Linked DNA regions of Homo sapiens: region 2 is linked to region 1. The links come from fine-mapping of genetic effects on gene expression. Tissue or cell type: whole blood. Region 1 holds a variant in brackets; the other region holds the start of a gene. All regions are shown on one strand. Distances are from middle to middle.

Region 1 (8,089 bases):
GGAGTGCAATGGTGTGATCTCGGCTCATTGCAACCTCCACCTCCCGGGTTCAAGCAATTCTCCTGTCCCAGCCTCCCAAGTAGCTGGGATTACAGGTGCCCGCCACCACACCCAGCTAATTTTTGTATTTTTAGTAGAGACAGGGTTTCATCATATTGGTCAGGCTGGTCTCAAACTCCTGACCTCAGGTGACCTGCCCACCTTGGCCTCCCAAAGTACTGAGATTACAGGCGTGAGCCACCGTGCCTGGCCCTTAAAACTTTTTTGAGATAGGGTCTCACTCTGTCGCCAAGGCTGGAGTACAGTGGTGCAACCACAGCTCACTGCAGCCTTGACCTCTCGGGCTCAAGCATTGCTCCCACTTTAGCCTCCCAAGTAACTGGGACTTCAGGTACACACCATCATGCCTGGCTAATTTTTTGTATTTTTATTTAAAAAGGGGTTTTACCATGCTGCCCAGGCTGATCTTGAACTCCTGGGCTCAAGCAATCCACCCGCCTTGGCCTCCCAAAATGTTGGGATTACAGGCATGAGCCAACATGGCTGGCCAGGATTTTATTTTTGGTTTGCAACCTAAAAGGAAGAAGCTGAGGAAAAATTAATGTAAGTAGAGAGTTTATTTGGGCCAAGCTTGAGGGCTGCAACCCGGAGCATGCAAGTTGCCCTGAACATCCACTCCAGTTAGTAGCGGTTACTAGAGGATTTTTAAAGGAAAAGAAGGGGAGTTCCTGAATTGTTTACCAAAAATTTACATTAAAATAACAAGCTATTGATTGGCTATCCATTGTTTTTTATACACATATTCCAGGAACATGAAGACAATGGGTGGGGCAGCTAGACAGGAACAAAAAGACTTTTTTTTTTCCTTTGAGACGCAGTCTGTCTCTGTTGCCCAGGCTGGAGTGCAGTGGCGCAATCTCAGCTCACTGCAACCTCCGCCTCCCGGGCTCAAGCGATTCTCCTGCCTCAGCCTCCCCAGTAGCTGGGATTACAGGCACCCACCACTACGCCTGGTTAATTCTTTGTATTTTTAGTAGAGACAGGGTTTCACTATGTTGGCCAGGCTGGTCTCCAACTCCTGACCTCGTGATCCACCCGCCTCAGCCTCCCAAAGTGCTAGGATTACAGGTGTGAGCCACCTCGCCCAGCCCTGTCTTATTAATTTTAATAATTTGTCTGAGATTCTCCTGAATTTGTACTGTTAATTGAAAAAAGAACCCCACAATATCCATAAATACTCTGTTGCCCAGGCTGGAGTACAGTGATGCAATCATGACTCGCTGCGACCGCTGCCTCCTGGGCTCAAGCAACCCTCCTGCCTCAGCCTCCCAGGTAGCTGGGACTATAGGTGCCTTTCACCATGCCCAGGTACTTTTTGTAGAAATGGGGTTTTGCCATGTTGGCCAGGCTGGTCTTGAACTCCTGAGTTTAAGTGATCTGCCCGCCTTGGCCTCCCAAATTGCTGGGACTACAGGTGTGAGCCACTGCGCCTGGGTGACTTTCTTTCTCATAAAGGGTTACAGCCAGCAAGGTGGCCATCCCACAGGCTGGAAAATGTGCCTCTGAAGGAGGAGGGGTTGGGGCAGGAGCTCCATGCTGAACAGGTTGGCTAAACATACACATTCAACAGGTTATAGGAGGAGCTATGAATATTCATGAAGGTCCTGACAACATGCATACTGAACAAACATGCATGTAACATACAACTCATGTTCACCTTGGGGTGGAGACTTAGCATCAAAATGTACTAAAATTAGGCCTTATAGGCTGGGTGCAGTGGCTCGCGCCTGTAATCCCAGCACTTTGGGAGGCTGAGGTCTGGCCAATACGGTGAAACCCAGTCTCTACTAAAAATAAAAAAAAAACTAGCTGGGCACCGTGGTGCACACCTGTAGTCTTAGCTACTTGGGAGGCTGAGGCAGGAGAATCACTTGAACCCAGGAGGCGGAGGTTGCAGTGAGCCGAGATGGCACCACAGCACTCCAGCCTGGGCAATAGTGGGAGACTCCGTCTCAAATAAATAAAAATATATACATACATAAAATAAAATTAGGCCTTATAGTAAAAAGGTCTTTCCAGGACACAAAAGCACACAAGTATGCAGCCTCTCTGAACCAGCCGGAACCAATCCATAGTCAGTGGTCTTACCTGGAGAAAGTTGCTGAAATCAGTCTCTTGTTCAATGAAAGCTGTAGTTGGCTGGGCATAGTGGCTCACACCTGTAGTCCCAGCACTTTGGGAGGCCACGATGGGAGGATTGTTTAAGCCCAGGAATTTGAGATCAGCCTAGGCAACATGGCAAAACCCCATCTCTACCAAAAATACAAAAAGTAGCTGGGTGCAAACTCCACCTCCCGGGTGGACCTACTGGTACACCTAGTGGTGCACACCTGTAGGCCCAGCTACTTGGGAGGCTGAGGTGGGAGGATTGCTTGAGGCTGGGAGGTTGAAGCTGCACTCAGCCAGGATTGCACCACTGCACTCTAGCCTGGAGGACAGAGTGAGACGCTGTTTCAAAAGAAGAGAAAGCTAGTTATGGTGGGTGAATGGGGTCAGTTAGCATCTGGAGCTGGATGAGCTGCAAATCGTTTTAACATTGTTTATCTTGAGGTCAGTACTTACTTAGCTGCTAGAGAAAAGGAACAACCTCGTGGCAGTGAGAATAGAGTTTATTCTTTAATTGTAGAGGTGTAGGACTTAACTTGTGCCTGGCATGGCCCTAAATCTTATTAATTAATTAATTTATTTATTTTTGGAATCAGAGTCTCACTTTGTCACCCAGACTGGAGTGCAGTTGTGCCATCTTGGCTCACTGCAACCTCCACCTCCTGGGTTCAAGTGGTTTTCCTGCCTCAGCCTCCCAAGTAGCTGGGATTACAGGCATGCGCCACTATGTCCAGCTAATTTTTGTATTTTTTGTAGAGATGGGGGTTCACCATGTTGGCCAGGCTGGTCTCGAACTCTCAGCCTCAAGTGATCTGCCCGCCTTGGACTCTCAAAGTGCTGGGATTACAGATGTGAGTCACCATGCCCAGCCACAGGTCTTATTTATAATTTGGTATGTTATCGCCATAAAGAGTCTGTTTTTCAGTCTTCTATGTTTTCAGTCTTACATATTTTAACGCAAATGCTAGTGCCTTGTCTCTAAGTCACCAAAGGGAGGAGTTATAACGACATGAGTGGGCTCTCCTATCCCATCGTGGCTGGGAACTCAGTTTTAAGTTTTTTCTGAGGTCCCCTTGGCCAAGAGGGGATCCGTTCAGTCAGTGAGGAGTTTAGGATTTTATTTTTAGTTTATATTCCCTTCTTTTGGCCAAGATTTGCCAGAGATGGCATTGATGACCAAACTTTTATTTTGTCCTATATCGTTGCTGGGGCTGTGTGCTACCTGCACTGGGTCCATCTTGTCCCTTGGTGGGATCCCTATGGCCAAGAGACTTAGAGCCAAAAGACTGAAAGACAGCTAA[T/C]TAAATGTTTTAGGACAGATAGGAAAGGAGATGGGCAGGCACTCATTCACCCTTAAAAACCTTTTGTGCAGCCAGGTGCGGTGGCTTATGCCTGTAATCCTAGCACTTTGGGAGTCTGAGGCGGGTGGATCACGAGGTCAGGAGTTTGAGACCAGCCTGATCAACATAGTGAAACCCTGTCTCCACTAAAAATACAAAATGAGCCAGGCATGGTGGCACATGCCTGTAACCCTAGCTACTCGGGAGGCTGAGGCAGGAGAATCACTTGAACCTGGGAGGCGGAGGTTGCAGTGAGCTGAGATTGCACCATTGTACTCCGGTCTGGGCGACAGAGCGAGATTCCATCTCAAAAAAATCAAAATAAAACAAACAACAACAACAACAAAAAACAACCTTTTGTGCAACATAAGAGGCAAAAACCAAAATCCAAAACGTGAGGTTACAAAATTGACTTATCTCTAAGTTTTATGTATTGAGCTATCAGCTATTTAGGTATTTGTGAACCATCTTTGATTCAGAGGGTCTGAACAAATTTTATCCCTCGAAACCAGCCCTTACAATCTCATGCGTTTACCTCTTCTGCAATTGTCCCTGGGCCTAGAGGGAGGGTGTTTGATATCAAATCAGATTGGAGCCAATGGGATTTTAAATCATTTTCAGATTCTGGAGATATCAGGTAGAAAAAGAGAGGTAATCTTCATTTTTTACTTAATTGTTGTAGCTATAAAATAGCTTAAAAGGAAAAACAGCTTTTTGACTCTGGAAAACAAAACATAAGTAAATGTTTCGAACAGAAATATAAGTCCTATTTGGTTTTGACAACGACAGGAAAAGGAAGCTTACAGGTAACTAAATATTCAAATTATTTAGTTCAAGGCATAGAACAAATTATATTAGCTTAGAGGCAATTTTTTTTTTTTTTTTTTGAGATGGGGTCTCACTCTGTCACCCAAGCTGGAGTGCAATGGTGCAATCTCAGCTCACTGCAACCTCCGCCTCCTGGGTTCAAGAGATTCTCCTGCCTCAGCCTCCTGAGTAGCTGGGATTACAGGCGCCTGCCACCACACTGGGCTAATTTTTTATATTTTTGGTAGAGACAGGGTTTCATCATGTTGGCTAGGCTGGTCTCGAACTCCTGACCTCAAGTGATGTGACCGCCTAGGCCTCCCAAAGTGCTGGGATTACAGGCGTGAAAACCGCACCCAGCCAGATAGAGGTAAAAGTGTTAAATGGGTCTTTGAATACAGGCCTGTTCTTGTGTCTCTTGAAAGCAGTATAACTTCGGTTGCTGTCTTTTCCCAGGTCGGAAGACTGGGAGATCATGTAAGATTTAAACGTTTTCAAATTTGTTGAAACTGATTTATGGTCCAGCATGTGATCAGTTTTGCTAAACGTCCTGTGTAGGTACTTGTGAAGAAAGTGCGAGGCAGGCGGATCACAAGGTCAGGAGTTCGAGACCAGCCTGGCCAATATGGTGAAACCCTGTCTCTACTAAAAATACAAAAATTAGCTGGGCGTGGTTGCCGGCGCCTGTAGTCCCAGCTACTCAGGAGGCTGAGGCAGGAGAATCGCTTGAACCTGGGGGGCGGAGGTTGCAGTGAGCTGAGATCGTGCCACCACACTCCACCCTGGGTGACAGAGTGAGATTCCCTTTCAAAAAAAAAAAAAAAAAGAATGTGCGTTCCACAGCTGTGGGCTTAGTGCTCACACTAAGCATCTTCCTTGGATGTCTGTTATGCTTATTTTCTTTTTTTTTAGAGATGGGGTTTTGCTGTTTCGTCCCAGCTGAAGTGCAGTGGCATGATTATGGCTCACTGCAGCCTCGAACTCCTGGCTCAAGGGATCCTCCTGCCTCAGCCTCCCAAGTAGGTGGGACTCAGAGGTGAGCCACCACACCAGGTTCCATTATGCTAGTTTTCTTAATTGGCATTGGAGAAAACCATAAAATTAGGGGAAAAGGGTAGATACTAAAAGAGTGCTATTGGAGTATGATTGGAGGTGGAGTGAGAAAAGGAAATAGACCTTGCTTTCATGGGGCTGTTGAGGAGTCCAAATGAGCAGTATAGAGGCCTGGCTTGGTTGGATGAGATGGAGAAATTCAAGACCTATTTTTGAGATAGTAAGCCCGGACATTTAATTAATTAAAAATAATTGTATCAATTACTGAGAGTAAGAATACTAATAAAAGCAGTAACAGCAGTGGCAAAAGTAACCACACAAGCAGAAATACGAAAACCAAGATGATAAGACCATACAGTCCGGCAGTGTCTTACTAACAGGGTTGTGGGCGTCCCACTCCTTCTCTTCATCCTCCTCCAGCTCCTCCTCCACGTCTTCCTCCAGCTCCTGCTCCTCTTTCTTTTCCAGTACCTCCTCAGCCCCTTCTCCTCTGCCAGCCCCTCCTCCCACCTCCGCTCCCAGCCCCTCCTCCTTTCCCAGCCCCTCACCATCCAGCCCCTCCTCCTCCATCTCCTCCTCCTCTCTCAGCTCCTCCTCCTCCCCCAGCTCCTCCTCCTGCTCCTCCTTCTCCTCCACTCCTCCTTCTGCTCCTCCTTCTCGTTCAGCTCCTCCTCTCCCAGCCCCTCCTCCTCCTCCAGCCCCTCCTCCTCATCCAGCCCTTTCTCCTCTCCCAGCCCCTCCTCTCCCAGCTCCTCCTCCTCCTCCCTCCTCCTCCTCCAGCCCCTCCTCCTCCAGCCCCTCCTCCTCCAGCCCCTCCTCCTCCTCTTCCAGTTCCTATTCGGGGCGGGCCCAGCCCCTCCTCGCGGAGCGATCGATGGCTTGGGCTCGTCGCACACGCCTGCCCAGCCTCTGCGCTCGGCTCGCCAGGCCTGCGGCGCTGCCATGGAGACACGGCCCAGCGGCCGCCGGCCCCGCCCTGGGAGCCCCGCAGTGCGTCGCGCCGCTGCCCGCATCTCCGAGGCCCGCGACGAGCGGTGACTGGGGCGGGCGACGTGGGGGACCCGGGGATGCGGGCAGACGATAGGGGGCTGGAGGATGGGGCGACCCAGAGCGCGCGGGGTCTGGGGCGCGGGGATGGGGGCCGCGGGCCACGCGACGGGGACCCCAGGGTGCGCGCAGGTGGCGGGGACGCGCGATGGGGGCCCGGGAAGCTGAGGCTGACCTAGCGCAGGCATCCCAGGAGGGGAGGTCCCTGACGCTGCGCAGCTGGGAAGGCGTTCGGGAGTGGGTTGCGATGCTTCCCTGTTTGTTTTCTCCTGACATCGTTTTTGTTTGGGTCCAGGGGCCTCACGGGAGCTGGATGCTCGGAGCAGCAAGGCGGCCCTGGGGGCCCCTTCCGGTCCCGGGGCTGACGCCTGGCGGCGTCTCCGGGAACCCGCGCCCTTTCAAGCGCCGCTGGCTCCTGTTTCACAGATGGAGACCCTGAAGCCCCAACAAGCAGCCTCCCCAGCACCTCCCAGTGACTGAAAAAGCTGGCACTGGGCGCCCGTCTCACTCTCCACCCAGCTCCCAGGCTGCCCCACGGGACGTAAGTAGCTCGATCTAGGCCGCTGACCCCCAGAGACTTGATGCTGCGCTGCAGACTGCCGCCGCTGCCGGGGCGCTTGACTTCCCCTCTCCTGACAGCACGTTCGTTCCTTTGCAGCAGCACCTTTGGGGAGAGACGAGACCTGAACAAACGCTGGGGCTGGATCCCCAGGGTGGGTCAGAACAGCCGTTGCCCTGAAAGCTGGCCCGGACAGATGCGTGCGGGGCGTGCCACCGGAGCTCCTTCCAGCTTGCGTCTGGGGCCACCATGTCCCTTCCTCAGGGCACTGGATCCATCTCTTCAAGCTCAGTGGTCCAGGCCATGGTGGCAGAATCACCCCCCAGGGTGTGACGCCTCGTCCCTGTCAATTCCACACAGCTGCACCCGGAAGAGCTGTGGCCGGGCGCCGCTCTGACCTGTGTGCGGTCCCCTGAATGGGTCTCAGGTGTCTTCAGAATGGTGAGGCCGCCTCATTTCCTCACCACACAACCCTCCTGAGGACGTTGCCTGCAAATGGGCGGAATTCCTAATTTCTACCATTCAGTTAAACGAGGGATCCTTAAGCCCCAAAGCTGGGAAAGCTGTCCGTTAATTTAGTGCGCGTGGGCCGTCTCAGAACAGCAGGGTTCCCAGGAGTCCAGCGGGACGGGGGAGGGGATGAGTGGCCGTGTCCCCCTGGCAGAGAAGGCCTTGTCTGAAGGCTACGCCCGCCTCCGGTACAGGGACACCTCCTTGCTCATCTGGCAGCAGCAACAGCAGAAGTTGGAGTCGGTGCCACCTGGGACGTACCTGAGCAGGAGCCGAAGCATGTGGTACTCACAGTATGGAAATGAGGCCATCTTGGTCCGAGACAAAAACAAGCTCGAGGTCTCTAGGGACACAGGGCAGTCCAAGTTTTGCACAATTATGTAATTCCGATGTGAGCACCTGAACCCAGGACCACACTTTGAGGAAAACAGACCTGAGTTTCATTCAGTTGTCTTGTTGATTTCCAATCCTTGCTGGAAGATTTTGAATAATGAACGTGAAGATCAAACTGTGGTGTAAGAACCCAAGAAGCGCAGAATTGGCCCCCGAACCCCTCAGCACAGCCGCGGTGTGACTGGTGCACAGGACACTTCCCCTCTAGAGTCCC
Region 2 (8,089 bases), 44 kb after region 1:
TCCAGTGACGCATGGCACAGGGAGGGCATCCTCTCAGCCGCTTATAGTAGATTCTTCCTTCTGCCACATGACAGGTTATAGCTACAATACTCAGCACTCCTGCAGGGGCCGGGCACCTCACACAGATGCATCTGTGCCTCATCTCGGTCAGTGCTCACACGGAGGCTAAGGCCGTCCCGCCCCAGAGTCCCACAGCTCCCAGGTACCGACTCTTAGTCCCAGGTCCTCACAGGTGCACTGAGGGCACTCCCTCTGCCCCAGACTCCAGGCCTGGCCAGCAGCCGCCTCTGCAGATCACACCCGAGTCCACTGGGTGCTTTGCAAAATGCTGCAGCTGGTTATCAAGCCACACTCAGAAAGATCCAGCCGGCGACTCCTGAACATCACTGCACCCTCAGCGGGACACTTTTCCAAGTGGCTGGAAAAGTTGTCTCCCACAATACCGGATTAACTTCTGACGAACTCAGTACCTTGGGGGCCTGCGGCAAGGAGGGGGGCGGGGGCATGTTCCACGCCCCATCTTCCCAACACCAGGCTCCGAAGGCCCTGTGAGGAGGCAGCCTGCGAACTGACTCTCAGGGAACAGCCACAGACTGGTGCGAGACGCAGACAGCCAACAGCACGGACACAACAGGGTCCGAGCCTCCAGCCACACGCACAGGTCCTGGCTCCACTGCGAGCTCAATCAGGAGTGGCCAGAAGACTTACAATTTAAACCACCAACAGGTGAATGGCCCAAAGTGACACTTTCTCTTTAAAAGAGCTCTCGGTCAGGCATGGTGGCTCACACCTGTAATCTCAGCACTTTGGGAGGCTGAGATGGGTGGATCACCTGAGGTCAGGAGTTCAAGACCAGCCCGGCCAACATGGCGAAACCCCATCTTTACTAAAAAATTAAAAAAAATTAAAAAAAATAGCCAGGCGTGGTGGCGGGCACCTGTAATCCCAGCTACTTGGCAGGCTGAGCCAGGGAGAATTGCTTGAACCCAGGAGGTGGAGGTTGCAGTGAAGGGAAATCATGCCATTACACACCAGCCTGGGCAACAGAGTGATACTCTGTCTCAAAATAAGTAAATAAATAAATGAGCTCTCAAGCATCTTGGCCGAGCATGGTGGCTCACGCTTGTAATCCCAGCACTTCAGGAGGCAGAGACGGGTGGGTCACTCACGGCCAAGAGTTTGAGACCAGCCTGGCCAACATGGTGAAACGCCATCTCTACTAAAAATACAAACAAACAAACAAATAAGCAAGCCCTCAAGCCTCTCAGATGGCAGGAGCCCAGGAACCAGAGCAGGGAGGCCCGGGCACAGGGGCCCATGATGTCTGTGCCCATGATTTCACAGGAAGGAGAATAGGCAAAGAAAACCCTATGCTCCGCCACCAGCTGGGCACCTCTACAAGGTGGCAGTACCAACAAAAACACAGGAGCAAGGCCATTCTTGGCAAACGCTGACCCAAATGCACCTGGCACCCCATCATGCTTTGCTACCTGTGCATCTCTTCTGCTCCAACAAGGGGGCGGAGCCACAGGGGTCGGGAAGGCCCAAGGCAGACCCGCAAGTTCCAAAACCTTTTACGGCAAGAAGCCTTGCATTCTACCATGATTCATCCAGTTACCTTCTAGCTTCAACCAGATACTGGCTTCGTGATATAAGGGACCTGCTGGCTAGGCACGGTGGCTCATGCCTGTAATCCCAGCACTTTGGGAGGCCAAGGCAGGTGGATCACGAGGTGAGGAGTTCGAGACCAGCCTGTCCAACACAGTGAAACCCTGTCTCTACTAAAAATACAAAAAATTAGCTGGGCGTGGTGGCGGACGCCTGTAATCCCAGCTACTTGGGAGGCTGAAGCAGGAGAATTGCTAGAACCCGGGAGGTAGAGGTTACAGTGGGCTGAGATCGTGCCACTGCACTCCAGCCTGGGCAACAATGCGAGACTCCATCTCAAGAGGAGAAGAGAAAAAAAAAAAAAAAGGAACCTGCCTAGGACAGGAACCCCGTCAGGTCAGTTATACTTTGATGACCGGTCAAGGAAGCAAGAGGAGGATCCTCTGACCAACTGCGTTAACTGCTTTGAAAACCAAGAGACCCGCAGCACGACTTCAGGCATGCCCCCACCTCCCAGGCAGCAACGCTGGGAAGAGTAGGCCCCGGTTCCCCATACCCCGCCCCGGTACCGTGTGTATCCACAGCAAAACATGGCTCTTCCCATCGACAACTGGGCATAGCTGTTGGTTTTGTGCCAATCACCCCACTTGGGAAACCCTGAGCCACCATGCCTCAGGGAAAGTGGTGGCACTTCCTGGTGGCACCAGGAATCGCACAAGGCCATCACTGCCGCCTGGTGCACAGGGCTCCCGCGGCTGGCATCTCCAGAGCCTGGAGGAAGAGGGTAGAGGAAGGTAGCACCGGCTGCAGCAGGCCTGGCTGCTTCGCTCTGCACACCCCCACTTTCACTTTCTGGGTATGACTACTTCGGAGTGTAGGGCAGGCACTGTTTGCAAGTCCCGTCCTTCATTCAAAGCTCACTCACTTCCGAAGCAGGCGCGAGCTGTTGTCAAAGGAAAGTAATTACTCTACTTTCTAAAAACAAAACAAAAATAAAAATGGAGTGACTGCCCACTCGGAGAAAGCTTTTGAAATCCCTCCTCCCCGGATGTCCCAACGGCAGGGCTCAGGCTGGAGCTGCTCCCACAGTCTTTCCAGGCACCCGGTGCCCTGCTGAGGCACCGGGCCTCTGAGGCTACCCGGAAGGTCAGAAAGAAATGCCCCTCGCTCGCCTGCAGCCCGTCCTGTTACAGCGTGTGCCTTATCTTTCATGATCAGTAACCACCAGCACCCATCAAGGCCTCAACAGAGAAAACGGCAAACACAGACCTTTATTTGCAAATGAGAGGCTGCATCAGGGCTGCCAGGGAAGAACCCGGAGGGAGGGCTCCCTAACCCCCGAGGCCAGCCCCTTGCAGGGGTTCAGACCTTCCTTAGACCCCGTTGGAAGCCAGTAACAAACTACTTTCCCCAGAAAAATGCCATACAACTTTGCATAGATTCCAGGATCTCCCCAGGCATACTACATGGACCCAGGAAAAAAAAAAAACCCTCCATTTTAAAGAAAAGAGTAAGGGGAAAAGCCTACAAAAGAGCAGGGTAAAAAGAAAACTCTTTTCCTCTTCTGTTCCTTCTCACAGGGTAGGGCGGGGGAGGACGGGACACACGAAGCTGCCTCTTGCAGTTCCAGCCCAATTACTCTGCCCACCAATGCACTACAGTCTCCCCTCCTGGTTAACTTTTGCAGACAATGACCAAGTTTAATGTAAGGGGGAGAAATCCCAGTATCTATTTCTGAGCAGAAAGCTTTCAACCAAAATTAAAGATCGCAACCACTCAAGGATTGGGTCGAACGGAGGAACCCACACGATGGACGCCGGGTCCCTGCCCCCGGTGGGTCTCGGCGGGCCGAGTTCTCGCCCTCCAGGGAAAGGAGGCCGCGCGAAGCCCCCATCCCGGCCCTGCCCCCGAACGAGCAACCGGTGGAATAAGACTTCCCGCACGCCCCAGCTTTATTCACAGAGAGCCCACCAGGGCCATGTGGGTGTACACGGTTCGGGGTGCGCATTTCTCCCCGGATGGGCTTGTATCACGTTGTCACTCCGGCGCCCCCCAAAAGTGGGAAGGAGGGGAAGCACCCCCGTCCCTCCCGCTCCAACTCGCCCTCGCCCGGATTAAGCGATTTTCAGGCTGATTTCAAAACGGGAACTGGGTCTCCCCCTGGTTTGGGTGCAATAATCCGGCAACTCAGGGGGGCTCAAAGTCAGCTCTGGGCCCGTAACTCTGGGAGGAGGCCGCGCAGAGCCCAGGGCCGAGCCCGGCCTTGCCCCCCGCCCCGGCCGCGGCGCGCGGCGACGGTCCCCAGGCGCGGGCCCCAGCAACGGCTCGGGAGCGAGGCCGGCGGAACAGGCGCGGGGAAAGTGGCCCCGCGGAGCGCACGGCCGCAGGCCGGGGCCGCCGCGCGCACCTTCCCCCTCCGCGTCCTCCCTGGGTTCCCCCTTCGAAAGATGGCGGGCGGAGGAAAGGGGGAAAAAAATCCCTTCCGTGAGGGAGGGCGCGCGGAGGCCGGGCTGGCGCGGGGCGCGCGGGCCGCGCCAACTCCGGGCTGCGCGCCCCGGCCGCAGCGACGCCCCGAGTCCGGGACGGAGGCGGCCAAGCGGGAGCGGGAGGAGGGGAGCGGAGCCCGCGCCACCGCCGCCGCCACCGCCGCCGCGACCCCGGGCGGCCGCCGCGCTTTGTTGCATCGTGGCCGCGCACAAAGGCGGCGGCGGCGGCGGCGGCCCCGGGCGCCCGGTTCACCCGGACGCGCCGGCGGACTGCGCGGGGCGCTCGGGGCCGCGCTCCCCGGCCCAGCCCGGCCCGCCGCCGCCCGCGCCGCCCGCCGCCCCGCGCGCGCAAGGAAGCAAGAGAAAGGCGTACTTGGCCTCGCGGCTCCGGCGGCCGTCCCCTCCCGGCCCGCGCGGCCGGCTCCTCTTTGGCTCGCCGGCCCCGGCAGCATAATAGACGCGCCGGAGCCGAGCAGGGCTCATGCGCTGCGCCGCGGCGCCTGGCGGGAGTCGTAGTCCGCGGCCGGGCCCGCGCCGGGGCCGCCCAGGGGAGGCCGCGGGCGCGCGGACTACATGTCCCGGCCCCGCCGGCGCCGCGCCCCGCCCCGGGGGCCCCCGCCCGCCCCGCCGACCCGGCCGAGAGCGGGCCTGGCCCGGGGGGCGCGCGGGGGCGGGGCTCGGCGCCCGCCCGGCAGGGCAACAACGCTGGGACCCCGTGGGCCGTTCCCCGCCCGGGCCCGCACGGCTCTCCTCACCCCGTGTCGGGGACAGCGCCTGGCGGCGGATTTTCCGGTGCCCCAGGACGGCATGGAAGAAGCGGGCACGCAGCCAGCACCGCAGCCCCCGTCCGGGCACCCCGAGGCCCGCGGGAGCCACCCTCGAACCCCGGCCGCGCACGGGCGGGGCGGCGCGCACCTGCCGGGAGCCCGTGTTTGTAAACAAACCGCGCGCCTAATTAGCCTGGCGGGAGCGCGCGCGCGGGGCGGGGGGCGGGGCGTCGGTGCGCGCGGGCAGGTCGGCCCCGCCCGGGGAGGAGCCGCGCTCTGCCGCGCCCTCCGTGTCACCATCTCCCCCACCCGACTTGCTGGGGCGCGGGCGCCCAAGTTCGCTGTTGCTGGAGAGGGCGCCAAGTCCCCAGAGCTGGCGAAGAGTTAGGGGTGCTCCCAGCTCTGCCTGGGGACCTTCTCGCCCCAAGCCCCGGTTTCCCCATCTGCCCAGTGAGGGGCGGGAACTAGATACCAGGTTCCCAGCCTGAGATTCCGGGAGAGGGCCACCCCTGGCCCTTTTTCTGTATCTTGAAAGGTTCAGCCCGTGGACACGTTTTGCATCTTGTTTTGGGTGATGACGACTCGGGTTTACACATAAATCAAGTTGTGGGGGGGGGGGTTTTGTTGTTTTTTTGGTTTTTGTTTTTTTTTTTTTTTTTTGAGACGTTAGTTTCGCTCTTGTCACCCAGGCTGGAGTGCTGTAGTGTAGTGAGTGGCTCGATCTCGGCTCACTGCAACGTCCGCCTCCCGGGTTCAAGCCATTCTCCTGGCTCAGCCTCCCGAGTAGCTGAGATTACAGGCACCCGCCACCACGCCCGGCTAATTTTTGTATTTTTTAGTAGAGATGGGGTTTCACCGTGTTGACTGGGCTGTTCTCAAACTCCTGACGTGAGATGATCCGCCCACCGCGGACTCCCAAAGTGCTGGGATTACAAGCGTGAGCCAACGCACCCGGCCACATAAATCAATTTTAATCCAGCTGTAACTTAAGGTGGTTACACGTTGTGTACATTAGACCCCAATAAAAACGTCAAAAACAAAACGAGGTTCCTTGGTGCCTGCTGAACCTGCCAACTGCAAGGTCGAGTTTCCTTGTGTGGGCTGCACCCACCCCAAGCCCCTGGGGTCCCCAGGTGTGTTCCAAGTTGAGCAGCAGCTCCACTGCCTGAAATGCACACATCTATGCAATATTCACAAAGTGAGTGCCAGCACAGAGACAATTCATCCCCATGCTCACCCAGAAGGCAGGTGTTCTGTTCCAGGCTGACAGGTAAGGAAACAGGCTCAGTGAGGCAAAGGGTCCTGCCCAAGGTCACAGAGCCAATTTGCAGGACGGCTGAGACCCAAAGCCCCGGGGTCTTAGGAAGAGTTTGCAGGGGAAGCCAACACCTTTCCCAATCCTGTCCCTCTGTTTCTGCTGGGAGCCCAGGACCTTCTCACACTCCAGGGCAAGGCTCTAGGACGAGGTTCCAGCCTTGCCTTTCTAGTTGGCAAAATGGACAAAGTGCAGTCCTCAGGCGCAGGAAGGTCGGGGAGGGGGAATATGAGAGGTGAGGATCTGCAGGCAGTTCCCTTAGAACTACCATCCTGGTTGTGTCCCCAAACCCCCGGTGCAGTTCCTCAACCTACAGGCTTCTGTGTTAGCCACCTTGGAGGCTGCAACCCATTCCTGCTGTCTGCATCTCATCTCCTTGGGTATCTTGAGCACTCTGACCACCAGGATGGCCACCTCACCACTTACACAGACCCCACTGCACTCCTCCCAAGGCTAGAACAAAAAGCCTTTCCGCCTGGTCTTGACCTCAAGGAACCCAGGTACATGCACACAGCAGGCTGCCCTGACCAGCCAGCGTGTCTGAGGCTGCTGACCAAATGCCCCCAACCCTTATGGGCCTCCCACTGCCCTAAGGTGACCCCCAGGAGTATGGCAGGAACCCAGGCGCTCCCTGGGCACTGGCTCTGATGGAAGCACCAAGGTCCCCTTCTTTCCCTTCCCGCTGCTCACCCACACATGAGTGGCCCGGATGGCTCCATGGAGCCAACTTTCCCGAGGCTGGAGAAGTCTCTAGGAAGCAGAATCTGTAAGGGAACAGGACAGAAACTCTCATTTGAGCATCTCAGCCCCTGTGCTACTATCTCTGAAGACTAGTTTAGGGGCCACAGTGGCAAACAGCTGAAAGCCAGCAGGGCTGCCATTGAGAAGGGATTTGGGGTGGCTCTGCAGTCCCCTCCAGCCCCTAGCAGCCCATCATCCTCTCCCTTCCTGCTCAGGCTCTTGGAATTTTAACCTCTGGTACTGCTGAATTTCCCAAGTGAAGCCACTTAATCTCCCCGACCCAGGTTTCCTCCCCTGTCACAGGAGGATAAAAATAGAACCTGATCCCGCAGCTCTGGTAAGGGAGGGGGGCATGTGCAAAGGTTGGGGCTGTGATCAGGAGCAGGCTGCTGCCTTTGCCTCCTTGGCCATCACTCACCTCTCTACCTTCACGTTTTACTTCCTGAGCCTCCTTGTGGGCTGTCTCACGGCTCCATGAGAGCAGAGCACTTTGTCCATGAGGTATCCCTAAACATCCTTCAACAGTATCTGGCACCTAGTGGGTGCTCAATACATAGTTGTTGAATGAATAAATGTTCTCTTCTGCACCTCTGTCCTGCCCTCCAGCCTCCATCTGCAAACCTCAGTGTAGCCCAAGCTCTACCAGTGAAGCAGCCACCTGCTCACATCTAAAGGAGGACCCAGAGCCAGGCTCCAGCCAGTACAGGAGCCAGGGCCTCAGCTGCCTCCTCCTCCTTCACCCACAATGCCCCTTAAGGCAGCAGTCCCCAGCCTTTTTGGCAACAGGGACCAGTTTCATGGAAGACAATTTTTCCACGGATGAGTGGGGGCAGATAATGGTTTTGGCATGAAACTGTTCCGCCTCAGATCATCAGGCATTAGATTCTCATAAGGAGCTCACAACCTAGATCCCTCACGTGCGCAGTTCAGAGTACGGTTTGCGCTCCTGTGAGAATCTGATGCAGCTGCTGATCTGACAGGAGCCGGAGCGCAGGCGGGAATGCTGGCTCACAAGTACTCACCTCCTGCTGTGTGGCCCCGTTCCTAACAGGCCACGGACCAGTAACAGTCCAAGGCCCAGGGGTTGGGAATCCTGCCTTAAGGCGCAGAGCAGTTACATCATGGCACTGAAGTTTATACATCAGTTTCTTGAAAGTTTCATTATCATGTGT

The links. PIP is the estimated chance that this variant, and not a neighbour inherited with it, causes the effect.
Region 2: BRD3 starts here. The variant in region 1 is fine-mapped to the expression of BRD3 in whole blood (INTERVAL, PIP 0.96).

What each region holds. Positions count from the first base shown.
Region 1 is chr9:134,019,137-134,027,225 of GRCh38, forward strand. BRD3OS (BRD3 opposite strand) reads left to right here and starts at 6,345. Exons shown (of 3, transcript NM_001355256.2): 1 at 6,345-6,400; 2 at 6,709-6,954; 3 at 7,072-8,089. The coding sequence starts at 7,612. The coding sequence ends at 7,866. RefSeq lists silencers at 5,779-5,908, 6,219-6,638. The variant T/C (reference allele first, on the strand shown) is at 3,468.
Region 2 is chr9:134,063,478-134,071,566 of GRCh38, forward strand. It overlaps BRD3 (bromodomain containing 3), which reads right to left and starts at 4,549. Exons shown (of 12, transcript NM_007371.4): 1 at 4,468-4,549. RefSeq lists an enhancer at 1-23 and silencers at 3,995-4,244, 4,425-5,154.